6 separate regions of the Homo sapiens genome follow, and all the other regions are reported to be linked to region 6. Evidence: microRNA targets listed by miRTarBase, many of them from high-throughput screens and not tested one by one. Region 6 holds a microRNA gene; each other region holds the end of a gene's coding sequence.
The links. The annotated mature microRNA hsa-miR-6864-3p reads GUGAGACUUCUCUCCCUUCAG and lies in region 6 at 1,663-1,683, opposite strand. An mRNA with a match to its seed (bases 2 to 7 or 8) in the 3' UTR can be bound and repressed. Matches are read on the target gene's strand: a 7mer-m8 pairs with bases 2 to 8, a 7mer-A1 pairs with bases 2 to 7 and ends in A, and an 8mer does both.

Region 1 (4,090 bases), not on the chromosome of region 6:
ACAAGTACTCTGAAGGATAATTTTAATATGCCCTAAATAGAGAAAAAAAAGAAACCTCATTGGTGTTCCTTGCTAATGACAGAATGAACACTTGGTATTTTTTCTTCTACAAAAGGATGCACTGCACTGTGACCTAAACAAAGTTAACAGATTTTAATTTTGTTATTAACTTAATAACAGACGTGAGCTTCACAGGCTAAAAAGAAAGACTAAACCAACTTGCCAAACTTCATTTTTATATACTTTCCTGATTTTTATGCCCTGATCTATTTTTCTTTCTCTCTTACAATTTTATCTGAGTAATGCCAGAATACTGATTGCAAACAGTTGTAAAAAAATTTTATAAAGGTTCTTTATTCTCTAAGCGTGCACAGCTATTACATGTTTTAATACTTGATCTCATTTTCCAAAAGTAAAATAATTATCTTGGTATAAATCTCTTCCTATCACCAGGATGCTGAGATTTTTATTTTTGTCATCACCAGTATCAAGAAACAAAAGCATACAAAAAGTTTTGCAAAGATAACAGACTTTTTTTTTTTTTGAGATGGAGTCTTGCCCTGTTGCCCAGGCTGGAGTGCAGTGGTGCGATTTTGGCTCACTGCAACCTCTGCCTCCTGGGTTCAAGCGATTCTCCTGCCTCAGCCTCCTGAGTAGCTGGGACTACAGGCACCTGCCACCATGCCCAGCAAATTTTTGTATTTTTAGTAGAGACAGGGTTTCACCATGTTGGCCAGGCTGGTCTTGAACTCCTGACCTTGTGATCCGCCCACCTCGGCCTCCCAAAGAGCTGGGATTATAGGCGTGAGCCACCACAATTGGCCAGGTAACAGACTTTGTAAGAGCCAACTTGAGATACTATATTCACCAATTGAAATGTCCACCTGTTATTTCATTCCAATGATACTGTTCATTTCTCCCATTATATAATATATAACTAATTTCTATGGGTAACATCTAAATATACCAGAATTCTCAAAAGTACTTCTTTCCAATTATTTTATCTAGTGATTTTTAATTCAGTAGGCTATACTCTTTAAATGAGTAATATATTATTCACTAATAGTTGTTTGCTTCTTTTAACAGATAAAATTTAAGTTCCATTCTCTAGACTGTTGCTAGTATTCTCAAAGATTTTTCTCTAAATTCCATATTTTTTTTCTTTTCTTTGAGACAAAGTCTCACTCTGTTGCCCAAGCTGGAGTGCAGTAGCGTGATCTCAGGTCACTGCAACCTCCACCTCCCGGGTTTAAGTGATTCTCCTGCGCTGCTCAGCCTCTCAAGTAGCTGGGACTATAGGCATGTGCCACCATGCCCGGCTAATTTTTGTATTTTTAGTAGAGAAAGGGTTTCACTGTGTTGGCCAGGCTGGTCTTGAACTCCTGACCTTGTGATTCGCCTGCCTCAGCCTCCCAAAGTGCTGGGATTACAGGCATGAGCCACCACACCCGGCCCACATTTTTGGTTTTTACTTTTTGGAAAAAGCAATATAAGAAATAATTCCACTACCTTGTACATCTAGTATTAGTCCAGGTAGGATATCTATTTTATTGTGAACAAAACTTATTTGTACTATAAAGTAAAAACTGCTTATTTCTTCCATCTAAAAAGCAGCATAGTAAAACATCATAAACTTAGGCATTTTTTCTAATTATCTAAGTTTTAGAAAACTTATAAGCATCCAAAATAATTTTCAAATCCAGTATTAAGTAATCTTAAAAATGAAGGCATTTTTACATCAAAATCTCTGGATAAATAACAAAATAAAACTTAGTAGGTTTTGATTTAGAAAAAGTTTCTAAAAAAATCAGTATTTTAAAAACTAAAAATCAATCATGTTAGTTCTGCCGACTTGAAATCTCCTAAAAAACTGTAAGATAAAAAAAAAGATAGCCACGGTGGCACCACGGGTGAAGCACTGGATTGAAACCTCCCATCACCCCAAAAAAGAATAAAATAAATGAATAGATGCCAGTCTCATTTATGCATCATAATTATTGCTACTTAACTTGAGACTTTGTTCAATACAAATTCCTGAAGTCTTAAGAAAAGACACCTTGACATTTAAATATGTTCTATTTTACAATTGTTGTACCAGTTTATTTCAGAGTTATTTACCTAAAACATAGCTATTTTTTCCTTAATAAAACAGAGGATTTTTACTTATTGGAAAGAAAATTCTTCTATAGCTTTTTATTAGCCCTGACTCACATCAAATCAAATCTATTCAAAAGTTTCCCTAAACAGAATCCTTTATTTCTTAAAATTTTTTTACTCACTCAAAAGATTATAAAGAAAAGGGCACTGGATACTGTGGTCAACAGGAAAGCGAAATTGCAAAAGAAAAATTTCTCTAAGATTCAACTGAGAAGACAATTGGATTTAAGGACATCTATGATTTGTGGAACAAAAAAGAATACTATTACTGGAAACAGATCCCTTTAAAGAAAGCCATGTAACCATTCCTTCCTGAAAATGCATTTAACATACAAAGTCTCTGCACAATTTCAGAGGGATTCACAAGTTCTCCCAAACACATGAAATCTCAGATTAATAACACTGGTAGTTGTAAAAGCTCTCTGACCTAACTCAAAAGATAATCTTACAAAAAAATCTAAGTTTAACAATGTCTTTGAATTCCAAATTAAATAAATCAGACTTTTACTTTAAGATCTTAATAATCAACCACAACATTTAACACTATATAATAAAATTAGCTATAATCCTAAAACATGAAATAGAAATTTTTAAATTACTATATATAAATGATTATTTTAAGTTATACATATCTTTTCAATTCATTCATCAATCACACAGATATCCTAAGTAAAAATTCAACATATTTGGGTACTACTAACTCTTAATTATTAGAGTAAAACAGTATTTGCTTAGTGAAGAAAGAGTCAAGAAATTCGGAACTTTGCAAATGCAAATTGTGCTGCAAATGCTACTTAAAAGGCCCAACTGTCAAAATCACAATTAGCACTTTTGCTTAATTATATTATTAAGGAAATACATCTGTAAAATGTATCTCTAGTTCCACTTTTTTCTACTCAATTTTTATTAAGGACAGTAATAGATTTCAGTAACTTCTCATTAGAAACACGCTAAGTAGTAATAGAATTAGCTAATGTACCAGTTTCAATATTCTTATTTTATTCTTACCATGCAAACTTGTAACTTTCACCGAGTTTTGAAAATCCAAGTGTGCAACAGATACCTTTAAAATATTATCCCCAATCAGGAGTTCCATAAATAAATTGATATATTTTCATTACAGTGGTCAGTAAATAGGAAAATGATTACTTAAGAATGTATTTAAAGCCATCTCTCTCAACTGTCCCATTATCTGTACTCTTTTATTAGAAAAATCTTAAATTTTATCATTTGGAATAATAAGAAAATTGAACCTAATGTTCTCATTTTAGTTTGTTTTAAAAATGGATACAATGACCTTTAGGAATGGGCCACAAAATCAAATCAAATGTATTTTCTCAAATACATCTTAGTATAGACCAAGAATTAGTTTATATACCACAGCAAATTGTGGTTATCTGTAAATGATTTTCAGGGATAAAAGCCTTGCAACATTGCAGAGAGTTGAGAGATGTGGTTAAAGTGACAAAGCAATAAATCAGGTTTCAGTAATCATAACAGAAAATGGAAATAACAATCACTTGGAATCTTGAGTATTATATTCAGTTTCTCCAGCTGAAATCTGGCTGAGCCGCTTGCTCGATCCCCAAAATTTTCGAGAAAGCTGACCTGAACGCATCTGTGTAAAGTAATCCAAAGAAATGAAGAATAAATATTAAGAAAAAATTAAAAAAAAGATATGTAAGACACTGATTTTGCAGAGTGAAAAGAAACAAATTGTTAGCAGAATTATTAACACTTTAAAGGTTATCAATAATAGAGAAAGACGGCCAGGTGTGGTGACTCATGCCTGTAATCCCAGCACTTTGGTAGGCCGAGGCAGGTAGATCACTTGAGGCCAGGAGTTTGAGACCAGCCTGGCCAAAATGGCAAACTTCCGTCTCTACTGAAGATACAAAAATTAGCCCAACATGGTGGCGCACGCCTGTAATCC
Region 2 (4,085 bases), not on the chromosome of region 6:
GACCAGTGAGCTTGTCTGGTTTGTTCACTGCTACATTCCCACGCCTACATGAGTTTCTGACTCATGGTCAATATGTAATTATTTGTTGAATGAATGAATGACTTCATTTTTATGTGTATAAATTTGGTGACTACTGAATTTATAACAACCTGATGGAAAACAAGTCTGACATGTTTGGAGAAAAATTGATTAGAAATGATCCTAATTCAGCCGGGCATGGTGGCTCACACCTATAATCCCAGCACTTTGGGAGGCCGAGGCAGGTGGATCACCTGAGGACGGGAGTTCAAGACCAGCCTGACCAACATGGTGAAACCCTGTCTCTACTAAAAATACAAAAAATTAGCCGGGCATGGTGGTGCATGCCTGTAATCCCAGCTATTTGGGAGGCTGAGGTAGGAGAATCGCTTGAACCCGGGAGGTGGAGGTTGCAGTGAACCGAGATCGCGCCATTGCACTCCAGCTTGGGCAACAAGAGCGAAACTCCGTCTTGAAAAGAAAATAAAAGGTTCCTAATTCTCCATTTCTAAGAAATACTAACTTTTTTCTTTTCTCTTTCTTTTTTTTTTTTAATTGTTGTGGGTGTTCAATGTAGATCTGAAGAGGAATGATTATACGCCTGATAAAATTATATTTCCTCAGGATGAGCCTTCAGATTTGAATCTTCAGCCTGGAAATTCCACCAAAGAATCAGAATCAACTAATTCTGTTCGTCTGATGTTATAATATTAATATTACTGAATCATTGGTTTTGCCTGCACCTCACAGAAATGTTACTGTGTCACTTTTCCCTCGGGAGGAAATTGTTTGGTAATATAGAAAGGTGTATGCAAGTTGAATTTGCTGACTCCAGCACAGTTAAAAGGTCAATATTCTTTTGACCTGATTAATCAGTCAGAAAGTCCCTATAGGATAGAGCTGGCAGCTGAGAAATTTTAAAGGTAATTGATAATTAGTATTTATAACTTTTTAAAGGGCTCTTTGTATAGCAGAGGATCTCATTTGACTTTGTTTTGATGAGGGTGATGCTCTCTCTTATGTGGTACAATACCATTAACCAAAGGTAGGTGTCCATGCAGATTTTATTGGCAGCTGTTTTATTGCCATTCAACTAGGGAAATGAAGAAATCACGCAGCCTTTTGGTTAAATGGCAGTCAAAATTTTCCTCAGTGTATTTAGTGTGTTCAGTGATGATATCACTGGTTCCCAACTAGATGCTTGTTGGCCACGGGAAGGGAAATGACTTGTTCTAATTCTAGGTTCACAGAGGTATGAGAAGCCTGAACTGAAGACCATTTTCAAGAGGGACGGTATTTATGAATCAGGGTTAGGCTCCATATTTAAAGATAGAGCCAGTTTTTTTTTTTAAATAGAACCCAAATTGTGTAAAAATGTTAATTGGGTTTTTTAAACATTGTTTTATCAAGTCACTGTTAAGTAGAAGAAAGCCATGGTAAACTGATACATAACCTAAATTATAAAAGCAGAAACCTAACTCACTCGTCAAGGGAAGTTACCTTTTGAGGAAAGTTAAAGTACTTTTTTCCCTATCTGTATCTATAGCAACAACCCAGAACTTACAAACTTCTCCAAAGATTTTATTGATTGTTATATCAAATCAGAATGTAAACATGAACTCTTGCATATATTTAAAATTGTGTTGGAACATTTGAACATGAATGCTGTTTGTGGTACTTAAGAAATTAATTCAGTTGGATTATCATTATGTGATACTGGCAGATTGCAGTGCAACCTTATGCCAATAAAATGTAATTTAACAGCCCCAGATATTGTTGAATATTCAACAATAACAAGAAAAGCTTTTCATCTAAGTTTTATGCTTTAATTTTTTTTCTTTTTTTTTCTTTTTCTTTTGTTTCCTTGGTACTAATTTTAATTTTTATTTGGAAGGGAGCAGTATAAAGCTTATTTGTATTTAGTAGTGTATCTCATAGATACAGACAAGGCAAGAGATGATAAGCTGTTTAAATAGTGTTTAATATTGATTGGGGGTGGGGAGAAAGAAAAAGTGTATTACTTAAAGATACTATATACGTTTTGTATATCATTAAATCTTTAAAAGAAATGAAATAAATTTATTGTTTACAGATGTTTAGTGAGTTTAATCATTCTGAAAAATTATCTGACATTTTCAGGGTGTCAATTTGAGTATCAGTTTTTTTAAATGAACCATTTGTATACCTGTGCTTTTGATCTCCTGTCCTGTACAATGTTTAAATTAATACTGATTTCTTACTGTCTTCTTAGAAATCTGTTTTTTGTTAGGCCAAAAAAGGGCAATATGGGCTGTCTGTTGATTTTTAATTTTATATTGATTATTTTCACAGGATTATAATAGTAGCTATACTTTTTTTTTTTTTTTTTTTTTTGAGACGGAGTCTCGCTCTGTTGCTTGGGCTGGAGTGCAGTGGTGCGATCTCAGCTCACCACAACCGCCGCCTTCCGGGTTTAAGTGATTCTCCTGCCTCAGCCTCCCGAGTAGCTGGGACTACAGGCACACGCCACCATGCCCAGCTAATTTTTATATTTTTAGTAGAGACAGGGTTTCACTATGTTGGCCAGTGTGGTCACAAACTCCTGACCTTGTGAGCCACCGCACCTGGCTGCTAACACTTATTTAGTGCCTACTGTGTACCAGACATTACTCTAAGTATTTCACATATATTAACCTACTTAATCCTTATAACAATGTTATAAAGAAATAGGTGTTATTATCCTGTTTTGCAGATTTGAAAGTCAAGGTGCTAGAGAGGTAAAGTAACGTCCATAAGATTCTTACGTTTATTTAATAATAAGTAGCAACGGTAGGATTTGAACCCAGGCTGGCTGCCTTTCATCTATACTGTTTTTGTTTTGTTTTGTTTTGTTTTGTTTTGTTTTGTTTGTCTTGGTGGGGCATGGTGGCTCATGCCTGTAATCCCAGCACTTCGGGAGGCCAAGGCAGGTGGATCACTTGGGCTCAGGAGTTTGAGACCAGCCTGGGCAACATGGCAAAATCCTATCTCTGCTAAAAAAAAAAATACAAAAATTAGGCCAGGTGCAGTGGCTCATGCCTGTAATCCCAGCACTTTGGGAGGCCAAGGTGGGCGGATCACAAGGTCAGGAGTTCGAGACCAGCCTGACCAACATAGTGAAACCCCGTCTCTACTAAAAATACAAAAAATTAGCTGGGCATGGCGGTGAGTGCCTGTAATCCCAGCTACTCAGGAGTCTGAGGCAGGAGAATTGCTTGAACCTGGGAGGTGGAGGTTGCAGTGAGCTGAGATCGTGCCATTGCGCTCCAGCCTGGGCAACAGTGCGAGACTCCGTCAAAAAAAAAAAAATAACTGGATGTGATGGTGTGCACCTGTAGTTCCAGCTACTTGGGAGACTGAGGTGGGAGGATCACTTGAGCCTGGGAGACTGAGGCAGCAGTGAGCTGAGATCATGCCACTGCTTTCCAACCTGGGCAACAGAGTGAGATCCTGTCTCAGAAAGAAAAAAAAAAAAAAGACAACCTCTTGCTCTGTTGCCCAGGCTGGAGTGTAGTAGCGTGATCATAGCTCACTGCAGCCGTAAACTCCTGGGCTCAAGCAATCCTCCTGCCACTGCCTCTTGATTAGGTGGAACCACAGGCATGCACCACCACACGTACCTAATTTTATATATATATTTTTTTATTTTTCATTTTTATTTATTTTTGTTTTTTTGAGTTGAAGTCTCACTCTGTTGCCCAGGCCGGAGTACAGTGGCACAATCTTGGCTCACTGCAACCTCTGCCTCCCAAGATCAAGCAATTCTCGTGCTTCAGCCTCCAAAGTAGCTGAGATTACAGGTACCCACCATAATGCCTGGCTGATTTTTGTATTTTTCGTAGAGACAAGGTTTCACCTTGTTGGCCAGGCTGATCTCAAACTCCTGACCTCAAGTGATCCACCTCCCCCGGCTACCCAAAGTACTGGGATTATAGGTGTGAGCCACCATGCCTGGGTAACACCCAACTAATTTTAAATATATATTTTGTAGAGATGGGGTCTAGCCTTGTTGCCCACGCTGGTCTCAAATTCCTGGGCTCAAGTGATCC
Region 3 (4,090 bases), not on the chromosome of region 6:
GAAAGAATAAGGTGAAAGACTTTTACTGTAAGTCTTAGTGGTTTGGCTGATTTTTTTATCTACCTAATACTTGCTTTTTTTTCTTTCCATAGCATTATAGCCTTCAGAAAGGCCAACAAAGTGGGTATTTTCATCAAAGTTACACCACAGCGTGAGGAGGGTGAAGTGACCGTGTGCTTCAAGATGAAGCATGATTTTAAAAACCTGGCAGCCCCCATTCGCCCCATTGAAGAAAGTGACCAGGGAACAGAAGTCATCTGGCTCACCCAGCATGTGGAACTTAGCTTGGGCCCACTTCTTCCTTAAAAGGTTCCACTGGAGGGCAGATCCCAAAGGACAGTATCACCGTAAACCTGCGTTAAAATGTGGAAGCTGCTGCTTCATTAGGCCTTGTTTATAACGATGTACCCATGCACTACGGAATTCTATTGCTAAGAAAGTGGGAGCATAGGCAAGGCATTGGGAACACAGGGTAGCTGCTGTTGCTCTTGCTCTCACCCCTGTTGACACCAGTAAGTCTGTGTCTCCCTCACTGAACCCTGCACGTTGAGTAACAGCAGCATAATTCCATCCTAGGAAAGGGGATGGGTGTTCCTTGGAATGGCATTGTATTTACCACCTGAGAAACTCTGTACTGTCTCTTGATCTGATCTCACTAAGGATCACAATGTCACAGATGAAACTTAAATGATAACCCAAAGGTAGACCTGCTGTTAATGATCCAGCATTGGTCACAATGTACCAACTGCTTTCTGCATTCCGTTAAATATCATCTAACAGTCTAAAACATATCCCTTCATTGCCATAATGGCTGCCATTTTGCCATAGATTTCCATATAACTGAAAAACTGAATTGTCACTTTATCTTTAGTATCATGATGATTGGAAAAACCTGTGAAGTTGTTAAGGCACTCTCATTTGCCCTCTTTTTCTAAGTGAATACAGGACACGTATTAGTTGTTCTTAATTTTTTTCCCAGTAAAATATGGATCTTTTAAGAAGAATTTGAGAAGCAAACAATTACATGTCATGTCAAGGGGGTAGCAGATTCCATTCGTTTTCAATATTGCCACAATACCCAGGGATTAATGCTGCCACAGGGGGGCAATCTTTATTTGTCTTACTTCCTACCCCTTCCCTGTTCTGCCTCTTTAACTCAGTTAAGTTGTTCTGTTTGGGACCTGGAAAAGAACCCAAAGAAAACCTGAGTGGACAGGTTCATTTCTGGAATGCAGAAAACATTTTAAAGGCTAGATTTTTAGAATATTCTCAACTAGCATTCTTTCCATTGATTTGAAGGGGAAATTAACTATTATAATCTCTTGAATCCAAAACTGGATATTAAGAACTTTCCCCCTTACTAAGTTTAAGACTTTTGTCATGTGGTGAGTCAAATAAGACCATTTTGATTGTAAACCATAAAATAGTTCAGCAAGTAGCCCACAGTTCTGGCCTAACAGCAGACTTGCTGTTTTCACTTGGTATCCTGGAGTTGGGTTGCTAACCTTAATTTCTATGATGTTTTCTAAAATGAAACTTGATAAAGTAGACCACCAGCTGCACCGTGTTTTCTGTAAAAGTATTGTTAGTAAGTGGCCAAGAGACTTGAGGAAAATACAGATTTTTTGTTTACCTTGGTCTTGTTTTAAGTCTTAAAAAATTAAAGATAACATTATAATGTAGAATACAGATGGGACATAGTCCTTGTAAGCTTCCCTTGAAAATGTTTTAAATATTTAGGAAGCTTTTAAAAGACACTAAATTGTACTCTAAAAGACACTAAATTGTACTAATTGTACAAAGGTCAAGCCAATTTTATGAAACAGTCCTACAGAGTAATATATGTGATGCAGTGTAAGAAGGAAAATACTCATCTCTAACATTATGGTAATAACATTTAGCCTCTTAGGAGTTGGAGCAGGGGGATGGGTAATTACAGATTTGCAGACTATAGAAAGAGTTTCATTTTTTTGTGACCCCACAGAGTCTCAAATTTTTATTTCACTACCTGCTAGAGCCTACTGTGAAATCACTGCTCCATATTTGCCAGTGGAGGAAATGGGCATAGAGTAGAGAATAGCTTCATATGTTTACACGTTTGCATAGACTACACACATGTCATGCGTTTATGGCAGGTAGCTGGTATTTATTCCCCAAAGTAATAATGTTGAAGTATGGGTCTCATCATTCCCATACACAGAAACACAAAACACTTTGATCATAAACTTTTTTCTTCAGAAGCCAAACTAACTTGCAGAATAATAGAGCCACTGGTTTAATGTTTCCTCAAGATAGGTTTTAGTGTAAGCTAGTATTCTGTGTGTTCGTAGAAATGATTCAATACCTGCAGCTGGTGAATTAGGAATTGTATTTGTTGCCTTTTTTATATTAGATGAGGTGCAAAAATTTTAATGCTAGTCAGTATGCACCACCACAGGAAAGTTAGATCCCATTAGCACTTGAAACTACAGCTTTGGAAACTTAGGCTAAGTTAATTTGGATTTGTTACTTGATTCACCTACTGACCTTTTCTTTTGTTTGAAGTGCTTATCAGCATAATGAGCTAAGTGTCATGCATATTTGTGAAGAAACACCCTTTTTGGTCCCTTTTGGGACAGAGAGGTACTCCTTGATCTTTATGAATGACAGGTTACTGTTTTGCCTTATTGCTTAACTTAATGTAGTGAAATAAAGCAGACAAAGCTTGAGCGTGTCTTTTGTTTGCTCTCATGTAGATACTAAGTAGCATGGCTCAGAGCCAAAAGACAAGCGTGAAGTTAAGAGAGTTGGCTAAGAGAGTTGGTGGGGCATGCTCCCTTCCATTCCTTAAATGAAGTAATCTAAAATCTCTTAGCAGGTTAGTTCACCATAATATATAAGTAGATGTTGCTTTGAGCTTCTTATATACATATTCACAGAACCATTATATAAATGTTGTTAGACCTCTACCAGTTTTTATCCTGGGTCATTGCTTCTAAAGATATCCTTTACAATATACACAGTGGTCTGACTCCACCAGTGGCCACTCATCACCTTCATCTGTACCTTCATAACTGTTCCTTCCCTCCTCTTACTTAGATGAATTATTCATACTCTTCCTGTTGGAACCCAGCCCCACCTCTTAACACTGAAGCTCATCCTCTTACCTATTCACAGATAGCATCGGCAGCTCCCTCCTTCCCTTTTCCATTAGCATGTGATTTCTCTCATCTTAAAAAAGAAATTGGCCTCACTCTCCTCTTCAGCTGCCACTCCATTTCTCCACTCCCTGTACAGCAAAACTCCTCTAACTCTGACTGGGCATGATCGCTCACACCTGTAATCCCAGCGCTTTAGGAGGCCGAGGTGAGAGGATGATTTGAGGCCAGGAGTTTGAGACAAGACTGGAAAACCTAACAAGACCTTGTCTCTGTTTAAGTAAAAGTTTTTTAAAAAACAAAAATGGCCAGGTGCGGTGGCTCACACCTGTAATCCCAGCACTTTGGGAGGCTGAGGCGGGCAGATCACGAGGTCAGGAGATCGAGACCATCCTGGCTAACAAGGTGAAATCCCGTCTCTACTAAAAATAATAAAAAAAATTAGCCGGGCCTGGTGGCAGGTGCCTGTAGTCCCAGCTACTCTCGAGGCTGAGGCAGGAGAATGGCGTGAACCTGGGAGGCGGAGCTTGCAGTGAGCCAAGATCACGCCACGGCACTCCAGCCTGGGCAGCAGAGCGAGACTCCGTCTCAAGGGAAAAAAAAAAAAAAAAACCCTAATTCAACCTTCCAGTTCCTCCATTCTCACCTGAACCCATTCCAGTTAGACTCTCACCGCCACCACTTGGTCGAAACTGCTCTTGTCAAGGTCACCAGCAATCACCACACTTAAATACAGGGTCAGTTCTCAGTCCTTAACTATGCAATTTTTCAGTAGATCTGACAGTTTATCTCTCCCTTCTTGAAAGGCTTTGCTTGGTTTCCAGAACACAACACTCCTGGTTTTGAGGCAGAGCAGGGACCCCCTTTTAGGAGGCTTGTGGGCCCCTCCATGCATGGAAATAAAGGGAAATCTTGAGTTCCTTCAAGGGAATTCTAGGCACCTAGCTAGCCCA
Region 4 (4,090 bases), not on the chromosome of region 6:
GAGTTGACCTCATCAGGAATTTTGTGGCTCCTTCTCTTCTAACCTGCCTGAAGAAAGATGGTCCACAGCAGCTGAGTCCGGGATGGATAAGCTTAGGGACAGAGGCCAATTAGGGAACTTTGGGTTTCTAGCCCTACTAGTAGTGAATAAATTTAAAGTGTGGATGTGACTATGAGTCACAGCACAGATGTTGTTTAATAATATGTTTATTTTATAAATTGATATTTTAGGAATCTTTGGAGATATTTTCAGTTAGCAGATAATACTATAAATTTTATGTAACTGGCAATGCACTTCGTAATAGACAGCTCTTCATAGACTTGCAGAGGTAAAAAGATTCCAGAATAATGATATGTACATCTACGACTTGTTTTAGGTGGCACTTACTCAAAAGCATCTACTCCTAATGGTTATGATAATGGCATTATTTGGGCCACTTGGAAAACCCGGTGGTATTCCATGAAGAAAACCACTATGAAGATAATCCCATTCAACAGACTCACAATTGGAGAAGGACAGCAACACCACCTGGGGGGAGCCAAACAGGTCAGACCAGAGCACCCTGCGGAAACAGAATATGACTCACTTTACCCTGAGGATGATTTGTAGAAAATTAACTGCTAACTTCTATTGACCCACAAAGTTTCAGAAATTCTCTGAAAGTTTCTTCCTTTTTTCTCTTACTATATTTATTGATTTCAAGTCTTCTATTAAGGACATTTAGCCTTCAATGGAAATTAAAACTCATTTAGGACTGTATTTCCAAATTACTGATATCAGAGTTATTTAAAAATTGTTTATTTGAGGAGATAACATTTCAACTTTGTTCCTAAATATATAATAATAAAATGATTGACTTTATTTGCATTTTTATGACCACTTGTCATTTATTTTGTCTTCGTAAATTATTTTCATTATATCAAATATTTTAGTATGTACTTAATAAAATAGGAGAACATTTTAGAGTTTCAAATTCCCAGGTATTTTCCTTGTTTATTACCCCTAAATCATTCCTATTTAATTCTTCTTTTTAAATGGAGAAAATTATGTCTTTTTAATATGGTTTTTGTTTTGTTATATATTCACAGGCTGGAGACGTTTAAAAGACCGTTTCAAAAGAGATTTACTTTTTTAAAGGACTTTATCTGAACAGAGAGATATAATATTTTTCCTATTGGACAATGGACTTGCAAAGCTTCACTTCATTTTAAGAGCAAAAGACCCCATGTTGAAAACTCCATAACAGTTTTATGCTGATGATAATTTATCTACATGCATTTCAATAAACCTTTTGTTTCCTAAGACTAGATACATGGTACCTTTATTGACCATTAAAAACCACCACTTTTTGCCAATTTACCAATTACAATTGGGCAACCATCAGTAGTAATTGAGTCCTCATTTTATGCTAAATGTTATGCCTAACTCTTTGGGAGTTACAAAGGAAATAGCAATTATGGCTTTTGCCCTCTAGGAGATACAGGACAAATACAGGAAAATACAGCAACCCAAACTGACAATACTCTATACAAGAACATAATCACTAAGCAGGAGTCACAGCCACACAACCAAGATGCATAGTATCCAAAGTGCAGCTGGAGACAGGAAAGCTGCTTGGGGAGTCTCCCAGCAGAACCTTTTAGCTCCAAACACCTGTGGTGGGACCTGGTCACTCTGAAAGGACTGCAACTCAGAGCAGAGAGCTTTAGGGAGCTATTTGCCCTATCTCTCACTAGTCATGAGGTGAGCTGAATGGAACCATCTCTTCCTTCTGATTCAGGGATATTGACTTTTTAGCAGCCTGAGTTCAGGTTCATTCGCCAACTTTCTAAGGAATAGCTAAATCTACATAACTTAGCAAAAGGCTGACTGTGGGAAGTAATTGGCTAATTTTATGAGGTGGGTCTGGTTGTTCCGAAGTCCTGAGCTTTGGCTTTGCACTCTCTTTCTTTTCACACTTCTTTCTTTCTTCTTGCCTTTCCTTTTTTTTTTTGGATATAGGGTCTCACTCTGTCACCCAGTCTGTAATGCAGTGGCACAACAGTAGCTCACTGCAGCCAGCCTTGAACTCCTGGGCTCAAGTGATCCTCCTTCCTCAGCCTCCCGAGTAGCTGTGACTACAGGAGTGCACCATCACACCTGCCTAATTTTTCTTTAATTTTTATTTTTGTAGAGAAAGAGTCTCACTGTGTTGCCCAGGCTGGTCTCAAATGCCTGGCCTCAAGGGATCCTCCTGCCTCGGCCTCCAAAAGTGCTGGGATTACAGGCATGAGCTACCATGCCAGGCCCACAATTTCCTTCTTAATCTTTTCACTTTCTTGTTATCAGGAGTGCTGAATTTAAGATATCCTATTGAAGAGATAAAAACAGTAAGTCAGCTTCTAGATATACAACCGAAGACGTGGGAGGCTTTGGAAAATAGAAACATTGATTCATTGTTTGCAGCCTTCATATATACATGTATGCATGAAGCACTTATTCAATTAACATTTATTGAATGCCTTCCTTGTGGTAGCCATTGTGTTGGATTTGGGGATATAGTACATGGTATGCTTAGTGTTCTCCACTCTCCCAAACCTGTTCTACTCCATCCAGTCCTCAAATGCAAAAAAAACAGTGACTCATCCTCCAATCTTCCTCCCCATATCCAATTTCTACCTCCCTATATCCAATTACTCATCAAGCCTGCTGAATTCACCTCCTATATATTTATCATATTCACTTTTTTCCTGTATACCGATTGTCACCTTTGTAGTTGAGATACATCTCTTGCCAGGATAAGGGCAATCACCCACTTCCTGTTCCCTTTCTTACATCCAGCCTCTCCTGCTACCATCTCATCCTCCTCCAAACCACTTCTAAAGCCAGAATGCATACAGTTTACCCTTTGTGAACCTATAAAATCCTTTGTGTGAGCAATCTGGTCATAGCTACAAAGAGATATACAATATTCATGAGTTTTCATGCAATATCACTCTAGTGATTTATCCCAAGAAAATCATTTTTAAAAAAGAAAATAGTTATATACAGAAATAAAAATATAGATGTAAATTTCATATTAGTAGGAAATTAAGAAAATATTTAACAGTGGAAGAATGGACAAGCAAGATAGCTTATTAGTAAATAAAATAGAATATAAGGATTATATAAGCACAATAGCTTTTTATGAATATGGAAATATTTACAAAATAAGTGAAATTTTAAGATGTAAGAATAATTCTAAAATAAAAATTATGTAAAGTTGTATATACATATACTTCATGAACAAAATATAATCTTGACATATATCCTTATTTGTACATACTCGTTCTCCTGTCAACCAATCCACAATATATAATTACATGAAAATTCTAAAACATGGCTGGACATGATGGCTCACACTTGTAATCTCAGCACTTGGGAGGCCAAGGTGGGAAGATCACTTGAGCCCAGGAGTTTGAGACCAGCCTGGGCGAAATGGTAAAACCGTCTCCATAAAAAATACCAAAAAATGTTAGCCAGGCATGGTGGTGCACACCCGTAGTCATAGCTACCAGGAAAACTGAGGTGGGAGGATCACTTGAGCCTGGGGAATTGAGCCTGCAGTGAGCCGTGATTGTGCTGCTGCACTCCAACCTGGGCAACAGAGTGAGTGAGACCTTGTCTCAAAAACAAAAAAATACTAAAACACAAAATAAATATAAGGAAGTCTAAAGATTCCTGATGTCTCCCATTATCACTTGTCCAATTCTTCTTCTGAAATATCAAATATAGCATTCTTTCAAAAACATTTAGGAGTCTCCTGATTTTTGTAGGTATCCTGAGTACAAGCTTGATCTGCATGTTGAATAATCCAGCATTCATTGGTAGAAAGAGGCTACTAACTTTTTCTTTAGATATCTCTGCATTGTTTGGCTTGTTATAACGAGTACATATTAATTTTGTGGTTCACTTTGCAACCCAGTGAGGCAGAGACAAAAAAAAGAATTTCAAAATTCTACTTGTTTAGTTATTAATATCCAGCGGTGAGCACTGAAAGCCTACAGTAAGAACTAAAGCATGAAAAACCCTTCTAGACTCAGTTGCATCATGTCTCCTCAAATAAAGTGGC
Region 5 (4,090 bases), not on the chromosome of region 6:
GAGAAACCTTTTGTATGTAGGGAATGTGGGAGAGCCTTCTTTTCTCACTCAAGCCTTCGAAAACACGTGAAAACCCACACCGGAGTTCAACCTTATACATGTAAGAAATGTGGGGAAGCCTTCAAGTCATCTAGTTCCTGTGAAGTGCACGAAAGAACTCATTTTGGAGAAAAACCCTATGAATGTAAACAATGTGGTAAAGCCTTCAATTCTTCAAGTTACCTTCAGTTGCACGAAAGAGTTCACACTGGCGAGAAAACTTACGAATGTAAAGAATGTGGTAAAGCCTTTCTTTATTCCACTCACTTTCGAATCCATGAAAGAACCCATACTAGAGAGAAACCCTATGAATGCAAACAGTGTGGTCGGGTCTTCATTTACTTCAGTCACCTTCGAAGGCACGAAAGAAGTCACACTGGAGTGAAACCATGTGAGTGTAAGCAGTGTGGCAAAGCTTTCACTTGTTTAAATTCCCTGAAAGTACACAAAAGAATTCATACTGGAGAAAGACCCTTTCAGTGTAGACAATGTGGTAAAGCCTTCAGTTACTCAAAGTCTTTGCACGTGCACGAAAGGACTCATAGTAGACAGAAGCCCTAAGAAAGTAAAGTGTGGTAATGCTGTCAGTTGTATTAGTTCCTTTTGGATGTATGAGAGTACTTACGCTGGAGAGAAATTCAAGGAATGTAAACGGTGTGATTAAGCCTTCAGTTGTCCTAATTCCCTTTGAAGACGTGACTCATGCGGCAATGAAATATTTAACAAATGGGGGAGGAACTTGCACTCTCCTGCGGGATTGCAGATATGTGAATGGACTCCATGGACAGAAAAGCTACGAATGTATGGAGTGTAGGAAAGCCTTCACTTCACGTAATCTTTTAAAGACACCTGAGAATATATACTGGAGAGAAACTATAAAGAAAATTCTATATCCATCCCATCTTTTGTGGGGTTTGTTTTTTGTTTTTGTTTTTGTTGAGATGTAATTTTGCTCTTGTTGCCCAGGCTGGAGTGCAGTGGTGCGATCGCGGCTCACCGCAACCTCCGCCTCCCGGATTCAAGCAATTCTCCTGCCGCAGCCTCCCAAGAAGCTGGGATTACAGGCATGCGCCACCACGCCTGGCTAATTTTGTAATTTTAGTAGAGATGGGGTTTCTCCATGTTGGTCAGGCTGGTCTCAAACTCCTGACCTCAGGTGATCTGCCTGCCTCGGCCTCCCAAAGTGCTGGGATTACAGGTGTGAGCCACAGCACCCAACCTTTTTTTCCCCGCCGCACCCCAAGATGGTGTCTCACTCTGTTGCCCCAGGCTGGAGTGCAGTGGTGTGATCCTGGCTCACTGTAACCTCTGGGTTCAAGCAATTCTTCTGCCTCAGCCTTCCAAGTAGCTGGGATTACAAGTGCCCACCACCATGCCCAGCTAATTTTTATATTTTTAGTAGAGACAGTGTTTCACCATGTTGACCAGGCTGATCTTAAACTCTTGACCTCAAATGATCCACCCACCTTGGCCTCCCAAATTGTTCGTTTTACTTTTTTTTTTTTTTTTTTTTGAGCTGGAGTCTTACTCTGTTGCCTAGGCTGGAGTGAAAGTGGCGCAACCTCTGCCTCCCAGGTCAAAGCAATCCTGCCTCAGGCCCCCTAGTAGCTGGCATTACAGGCACATGCCACCACGCCCAACTAATTTTTATATTTTTAGTAGAGACGGGGTTTCACCATGTTGGCCAGGCTGGTCTTGAACTCCTGACCTCAGGTAATCCACCTGCCTTGGCCTCCCAAAGTGCTGGGATTACAGGCGTGAGCCACCACACCCGGCCCCCAGTTCTTTTTTTTTTTTTTTGAGACGGAGTCCTTGCCCAGGCTGGAGTGCAGTGGCGCGATCTCAGCTCACTGCAAGCTCCGCCTCCTGGGTTCACGCCATTCTCCTGCCTCAGCCTCCCGAGTAGCTGGGACTACAGGCGCCCGCCACCACGCCCGGCTCATTTTTTGTATTTTTAGTGGAGACGGGGTTTCACCGTGTTAGCCAGGATAGTCTTGATCTCCTGACCTCGTGATCCGCCCTCCTCGGCCTCCCAAAGTGCTGGGATTATAGGCGTGAGCCACCGCGCCCGGCCTCCAGTTCATTTTAAAACCATGAAACCACCCACACTGGAGAGCCACCTTCTTAAATGTAAGCAATATGGGAACATCTTCAATGACATCTGCAACCATTGTCGAGATTCTTCGTAGGAAGAATTAAAGGAATGGGGAAGAAGGACTTGGGCCCCAGCAGGCCTTTTGTGGCATCCAGTCAGAAGTTAGGAAACACCCTCTAGGGCAGTGCCTGCCCTCAGCTCTCACACATGACTGGAGAGAAGTGAGAAGACTCCCAGAATCTGCCTTTTAAGTTTCCATCAGTGTCCTCGGGTCAGACTGTGGGAATGCTGTACTTCTAAGACAAAGGTTCGCATCTTACAGTTTTTCCCCAAGTGGGATCTGCCTATGCACATCCTAATTCACAGACATTGTCAGCATTGCATTATTCCAGGGCTGTTTTGAGGTCATCTCCAGCTCCATTTCCCATCTCAAACCTACACTTTGGACACTTGTTTAAACATTCACATCTGAATTTCTCTGTGGCAACCGCAGGTGGCTCTGAGGTGAGAGACTGAAGAAGCAGAGCCTGTATCATGGGACACACACCCCTTGACCACACAGCATCCACTCTCCTGCGGTTACCAGCCCTGCACCAACCACCACAGTCAGAATAATCTCAAAACTGCTAGTGGAGTCACAGACACACTCTGCCATGTCTTAGCTGTAGGACACTCAGAATTCTTACCTCCCCTAACTTGCTTTCCCTGTTTTCTGGCACATTCTACCCTGAGATATTCAGCGGCATATGCACTGATGATGCTCCGGCCTTCTCACGTCAGTGCATGTCACATGCATCCTGCTCCAGGACTGGTTTCCTAGCCTCCCGCTAAGACTAGCACTTAGCTCTTCTTGGAAAAGGACCCACCCTGCAGCGCTCCAGCTCTGTTGTGTATGGGAGGTGCTGGTGTCAGGGTTCACAAGCCATGGAACTACCTTGCTTCACATCACAAGGCAAGGTGAACTCAACTCCCAATAAACTGCTTGCTGGAGCCTCCGAATTCTCCGTTTTCTGAATTGCATAGGCACGATAGGGGTCGGGTCTGTCCTTTGTTGGAGTCAGTCCCCCCTTTTCTTAGCAAGTCAGTGTGTTTTAGAAGGGAGGTGGCAGCATTGAGGGAAACCAGGTCACCATCCACCCTCGTAACAACAGTCTCCCTGGGTGGGTCCCAGAAGTGATCTTTGTGTCGCTCGGGTCGGAACTCTTTAGGCCTCTGGCCTCCACCCTCCCCCAACAGCAGGGATGGGTCAGGTGGCAGCATCCAAAACCACGGTGAAGATACTAGGGTCCAGAGGCCGACTGGAGCAAGGTTTGCTGGCAGATGAGGCCTCAGTGGAAGTGACGGCTACTGTGGAGATGCAGTGGAGGACCTGGTGGCTGAGCCAGGAGATGCACACCTTCGCTTCTCTCACCAGGAACATTCGCTTCTCTCACCAGGAACATTTATGGTAGTATGAGGGGTTGGAACATTATTACTCAACCCATTTCAGGTCCTTTCACATTCTTGAGCTGCCATGTTGTGCTTTTGTAGAGAGATGATTATTGTACTGTGGGAGGTCAGGAAGTTCGAGATTCCTTCACTGTCAGAATGGGCTCAAGGAGCCATCTTTTGTGATAGGTATTGGGGAACTAAGGGGTATCTCTGCTACAGGAATGGGAGTGAGAACATTCACTTTTTGAAGGACAAGTATATGTGGGTCTATGATGATGTTTTTGTAAAACCCTTTTGTGTATGTGTCTGTGTGAGTCCTAATATTCAGTAAGTATTTTCCTCTGTGTAACTCCCTCTAATAGGTGTAGTCAACAAAGCTGTGCTAATATCTCTGTCCCCTTGATCCTGGCATTCTGGAAGACACGAAAGCAAGCAAGGATATATAAGGCACTGTGGTGGTTATTCCCGAGGAGCCAGAGAAACCTGGAGAAGAGATCAGAACACCTGGGGTCCTTCTATTTGGGA
Region 6 (4,090 bases):
TGCACAAGTAGAAAGTGCCCGTGGAGCCGGCAGGAGGCCCCCGCCGCGCTAGAGAACCACAAGCCCGGCCGTGCAGCCCTCCCCGCGGCGCCTTAAATAGATTCTTCACTATACTCTGTATGTTACAGTATGTACAAGACCCCTCCCCTCGGGGGACGGGGCGGACTCCGCAACGCGTTCCTATGTACACCACCTCCCCTTCGGCCCTGAGGTCAGTGGCCAGAGTCGGGTGATGGGGTAAGACAGGGCCAGAGAGGGAGGAAACAGACGCAAACATGCGGAGTCGGGTGGGGACACGGTCAGCCCTGAAACACGAGGGGCGTGCGCAGCGAAGGCAGTGGTGGGAACCGAGGCGGATACATTCAGAGACGCGTCGAACAAATAAATAAGGCAAGTCAGGAGGGGGCCGAGTCGGGTGCAGGCAGGAGGAGCTGGGGAGCAGGGGCAGGCAGGGCTCCGGAGGTCACAGCGGAAGATGCAGGTATGTGGGGCGCGGGTTTTCTGGAGCCAGGACCAAAAGAGACGGGGCACGACCAGGAGGGACGAGGAGAGGGGTGTGGGAGCAAGGCGTGGGGAGGAGGGAGGAGGCCTACAGAGGGCTCCAACAAAGGTGAACAGGAAAGCTGCCGACAGGGGCTCCCCCTGCCCCAGAAAGCCCTCTCCCTGTTAAGACTGCACGAGGCGCCCCCAGGGTGGTGAGAAAGGCGGTGGCCAGGTCATGTGGCCAGTCCCGGCTGGGGAAGCCCTTCCAGCTCCTGGTTCTGCTTCAGTTCCCTCATCCTGCAGAGAGAAAGATAGGAGTCAGAGGAGACTGGCGGATCACGACGGGTGGCAACGCAAAAGCCCAGGGGGAGAAGGGATGAGTACCTGTGTCGGCAGCGCCGCAGGAATCTCATGATCTTCCGGGCTGCCTGGTCCTGCTTCTTGGTGAGAAAGGAGCCTCTGGTGAAAGAAACAAAAGATGGACCTCACAGAAGGCATCGCATGCCTTCGGCCCCCCCAGGAACCCTAGGCAGGGAATGGCAGTGAGGCATGATGATCAAGAGGATGAGTAAGGGGGAATGGCGTGGATGCAGTGGGTGGGCACAGAGGGCTGGGGCTGGGCCCTACTTGTTGCGGGCAGGCAGGGTGGCCGAAGTCCGGTGGGGAGGGCCGGGCCTGCGGCGGTAGGAGCGGTAGTGCTGCTGGATGAGCACAGCCGCTCGGCGGCTCTGCTGAAATCGCTTCTGTTCATAGTAGCTTCGGAACTTGCTCTGGATCAGGATGGCCGCCTGGGTCATCTTCTTATAGAGTGCAAACTGCAGGGGTGGGGAGGAGGGACAGGGGCTGAAATAGAGGGACGGAGACCCAAAGCCCTGAGGCTCACCCAAGTTAGGCTGATGCAAGACTCTCTGTAACCCACACACTCAAGGAAAGACTGAATCATCACAGACCTCACACTCAGAGCTCATGCCTAATACCTTAAGTGCAATCCAGGTCAGCTTGTGGAGAGAGAAGGGGAGTTAGGGCTCTGGCAACATTCTGGAATGGTTAGGCGTGGGTGTGGGTTGGTGGGTTGCTGGTTACACTTTTGAGGGAGAAGGGTCTCACCTGCTTGTACTTCCGGTAACAGCGCTGGATTACAGCTGCTGCTACCTCCTGCTGCTCCTTCAGCCGCCGGCCCTGAAGGGAGAGAAGTCTCACCACCTCATGACCCACATAATGGCATATCTGACTTGTCCCTTCAACTTTCCTGGGGTTCCCCTGACCCTTTACCCCATCCAAGGCCTGTCTGCACGACTACTCATCCTCCAAAAGCCCTGGGAGCCCAGTCTCCCCTGACTGGAGATTGTGTAATTCATCCTGAGACCCCTGCCCCTGACCTTGTACTTTCGGAAGGCCGTCTGGATGACTCGGGCAGCCTCATACAGTTCCCGCTGCTCGTGATCTGATAGTGTCAGCAGGGCAAAATCACTTTCCATCTTGCCACTGGTGGATGCAGAGAGAAACTCTGCCCAGGAGGGTGCTGAAGGGACAGCCAGGCGACCTCGCTCAAAGGGCAGTTCGCTGTAGGCGGTAGGGAAAGAGGGTGTCATGAAGCATCTGAAGTCCCTCCTCTGCCACCTATGGATGGCTACGAAGGAAAACCACCAGCAACTGAGTCTGGAGAGTGACTTCAGAGTTCATCAGCCAGTTCAGTTCGCTTCTCCAAGGCCCTGGGGCCTCAGCCAGAATGGAGCTTTGGCTGTGGGAAAGCCAGCTTTCTCCCTTCCTCCCATCTTCCTTTGAAGAATCTGGAGGCTTTGTCCTGAGCTAGTCACCTGGGAGGGGTTGAGCTGGGGAAATGGTCCACATTCTCCAGGTAGCTGGCCAGCCAGGACATGGTCTCACTGAGCCCCACAGCCCCTGTCCGCTCCCGCATTGAGGCTCCAGCCTCGGGCAGCCCCACGAAGTCCTCTCGTTTAATCCGCTCCGGTGTGGCTTCGATGATCTGCTTGGCTAGTGAGATCATGTCCACCTGGAAGAAGGGAGAAGCTGAGTGAGTCCTTAGGGGCCCCAGCTGCCAGCTGTAACCTCAGTCCATTCCTATCTTGTTCCTTCTCTCCCTGCCAGGTGCTGCTAACCCTGTCTTTCTGGGCCACTGTTCCAGACTCATTCATTTATACTGATGGGGCTCCCACTTGGGGGTCCCTCTGTGCTGAGATGCTATGGAGAATATAGGATAAAAAGGAGATACTCCAAGTGGGGATTCAAAGCTGAACAAATGGAGGACTTGACACCCTTTCAGGCCAACCATCCACTGTCCTACCTGGGCCTGCCCCATGCCAGCTGACCAGCACATGCTCCCCATAGGCTTGGCTGTGCCCACCCCCAGCTCCCTTTCAACTCTCCAAGAACCATTCCAACACTTGCCAACTACTACCCGGATGAATGGCTCCAGTCTGGCCTTTGCTCCAGCCCTGAAGCCTATACTCCAGCACTTCCTGCTGGACACACTCAACACAACCTACTTGTGGAGTTCCCTAAGTTTTTTGTACTTAAAGTGCCACCCACTTACTCCATTAGTCTCTCTAAAGCAGGTATGTCCCCAGTCTCTATCAGAGAAGTACAAGGCTATACTTGAAGATTCACTTTCATTCCACAAGACTTTCTTAGCTTTATCATGTGCAAGCCTCCTTCCTGCATCAGATCACTGCCAAATACCCTCATCTTGCCAGCCTTACCTCTCCACACAACTCCCAGCTGCCCTCCGTCATCTTGGTTCTCCTAGAACCTTGTCCCTACATAGATCAACGGTTAACTCCTACAAACCAGCTCTAACTGAAGATATTCCCTAGAATTTTTGTTATAGAGACAGGGTCTCTTGTCCAGGCTGGAATGCAATGGCACAGTCAGCTCACTGCAACCTCATATTCCTGGGCTCAAGGGGTTCTCCTACCTCAGCCTCCCAAGTAGCTACAACTACAGGTGTGTGCCACCATGCCTATTTTTAAAAAATTATTTTGTGTAGAGATGGGGTCTTGTTATGTTGGCCAGACTGGTCTCAAGCCCCTGTTCTCAAGTGATCCTCCCACCTCGTTCTCTGAAAGTGATGGGATTACAGGGGTGAGCCACCGCACCCAGCCAGAATATTTTTTAATGCTTTTTATATTTTAAATCTTACTATTTTGTCTTTTTTTTTTTTTTTTTGAGACAGTCTCAGTCTGTCACCCAGGCTGGAGTGCAGTGGTGCAGTCTCGGCTCACTGCAGCCTGTGCCTCCTGGGTTCAAGTGATTCTTGTGTCTCAGCCTCTCAAACAGCTGGGATTACAGGCACATACCACAGTGCCCAGTTAATTTTTGTATTTCTTGTAGAGAGGGGGTTTCGCCATGTTGCCCAGGCTGGTCTCAAACTCCTGGCCTGAAGTGATCCACCCGCCCTGGCCACCCAAAGTGCTGGGATTACAGGCGTAAGCCACCAAGCCCGGCCAAATTTTTTTTTTCCAACATCTGTATTGTGGGACCAGCCAGAATTTTCAACCTCCGCTGCCTCATGACTTCCAAGTCACATGGTCTAAAAGGAGCTAAGCAAAAGGCTACCTTGCCTGTCCCAAAATGAAGTAAATAGGCC

Region 1: the mRNA of NBEAL1 is a reported target of hsa-miR-6864-3p. Seed matches in the 3' UTR shown: 8mer at 2,010-2,017 and 7mer-A1 at 1,169-1,175.
Region 2: the mRNA of TRPM7 is a reported target of hsa-miR-6864-3p. Seed matches in the 3' UTR shown: 7mer-m8 at 3,719-3,725 and 7mer-A1 at 4,058-4,064.
Region 3: the mRNA of DCTN4 is a reported target of hsa-miR-6864-3p. Seed matches in the 3' UTR shown: 8mer at 1,985-1,992.
Region 4: miRTarBase lists FGG as a target of hsa-miR-6864-3p. The part of its 3' UTR that is shown has no 7-base or 8-base seed match.
Region 5: miRTarBase lists ZNF490 as a target of hsa-miR-6864-3p. Seed matches in the 3' UTR shown: 7mer-A1 at 1,175-1,181.

The regions. Positions count from the first base shown.
Region 1 is chr2:203,216,938-203,221,027 of GRCh38, reverse strand. It overlaps NBEAL1 (neurobeachin like 1), which reads right to left. Exons shown (of 56, transcript NM_001378026.1): 56 at 1-3,775. The coding sequence ends at 3,674. Among named protein-coding and RNA genes, the nearest start is that of CYP20A1, 20 kb to the left of the region's middle.
Region 2 is chr15:50,558,319-50,562,403 of GRCh38, reverse strand. It overlaps TRPM7 (transient receptor potential cation channel subfamily M member 7), which reads left to right. Exons shown (of 39, transcript NM_017672.6): 39 at 596-4,085. The coding sequence ends at 726. Among named protein-coding and RNA genes, the nearest start is that of USP50, 14 kb to the right of the region's middle.
Region 3 is chr5:150,707,365-150,711,454 of GRCh38, reverse strand. It overlaps DCTN4 (dynactin subunit 4), which reads left to right. Exons shown (of 13, transcript NM_016221.4): 13 at 93-3,015. The coding sequence ends at 306. Among named protein-coding and RNA genes, the nearest start is that of RBM22, 8.3 kb to the right of the region's middle.
Region 4 is chr4:154,601,353-154,605,442 of GRCh38, reverse strand. FGG (fibrinogen gamma chain) reads left to right here. Exons shown (of 9, transcript NM_021870.3): 9 at 377-1,272. The coding sequence ends at 609. Among named protein-coding and RNA genes, the nearest start is that of FGG, 9.3 kb to the left of the region's middle.
Region 5 is chr19:12,576,995-12,581,084 of GRCh38, reverse strand. It overlaps ZNF490 (zinc finger protein 490), which reads left to right. Exons shown (of 5, transcript NM_020714.3): 5 at 1-4,090. The coding sequence ends at 600. Among named protein-coding and RNA genes, the nearest start is that of LINC02926, 27 kb to the right of the region's middle. RefSeq lists an enhancer at 1-1,161.
Region 6 is chr17:4,968,040-4,972,129 of GRCh38, forward strand. It overlaps MIR6864 (microRNA 6864), which reads right to left and starts at 1,732; the gene lies at 1,663-1,732. CAMTA2 (calmodulin binding transcription activator 2) reads right to left here. Exons shown (of 23, transcript NM_015099.4): 17 at 2,301-2,497; 18 at 1,863-2,046; 19 at 1,591-1,662; 20 at 1,461-1,481; 21 at 1,111-1,298; 22 at 868-942; 23 at 1-780. The coding sequence ends at 717. MIR6865 (microRNA 6865) reads right to left here and starts at 2,111; the gene lies at 2,047-2,111. RefSeq lists enhancers at 1-177, 178-855, 823-2,022, 856-1,532 and a silencer at 1-3.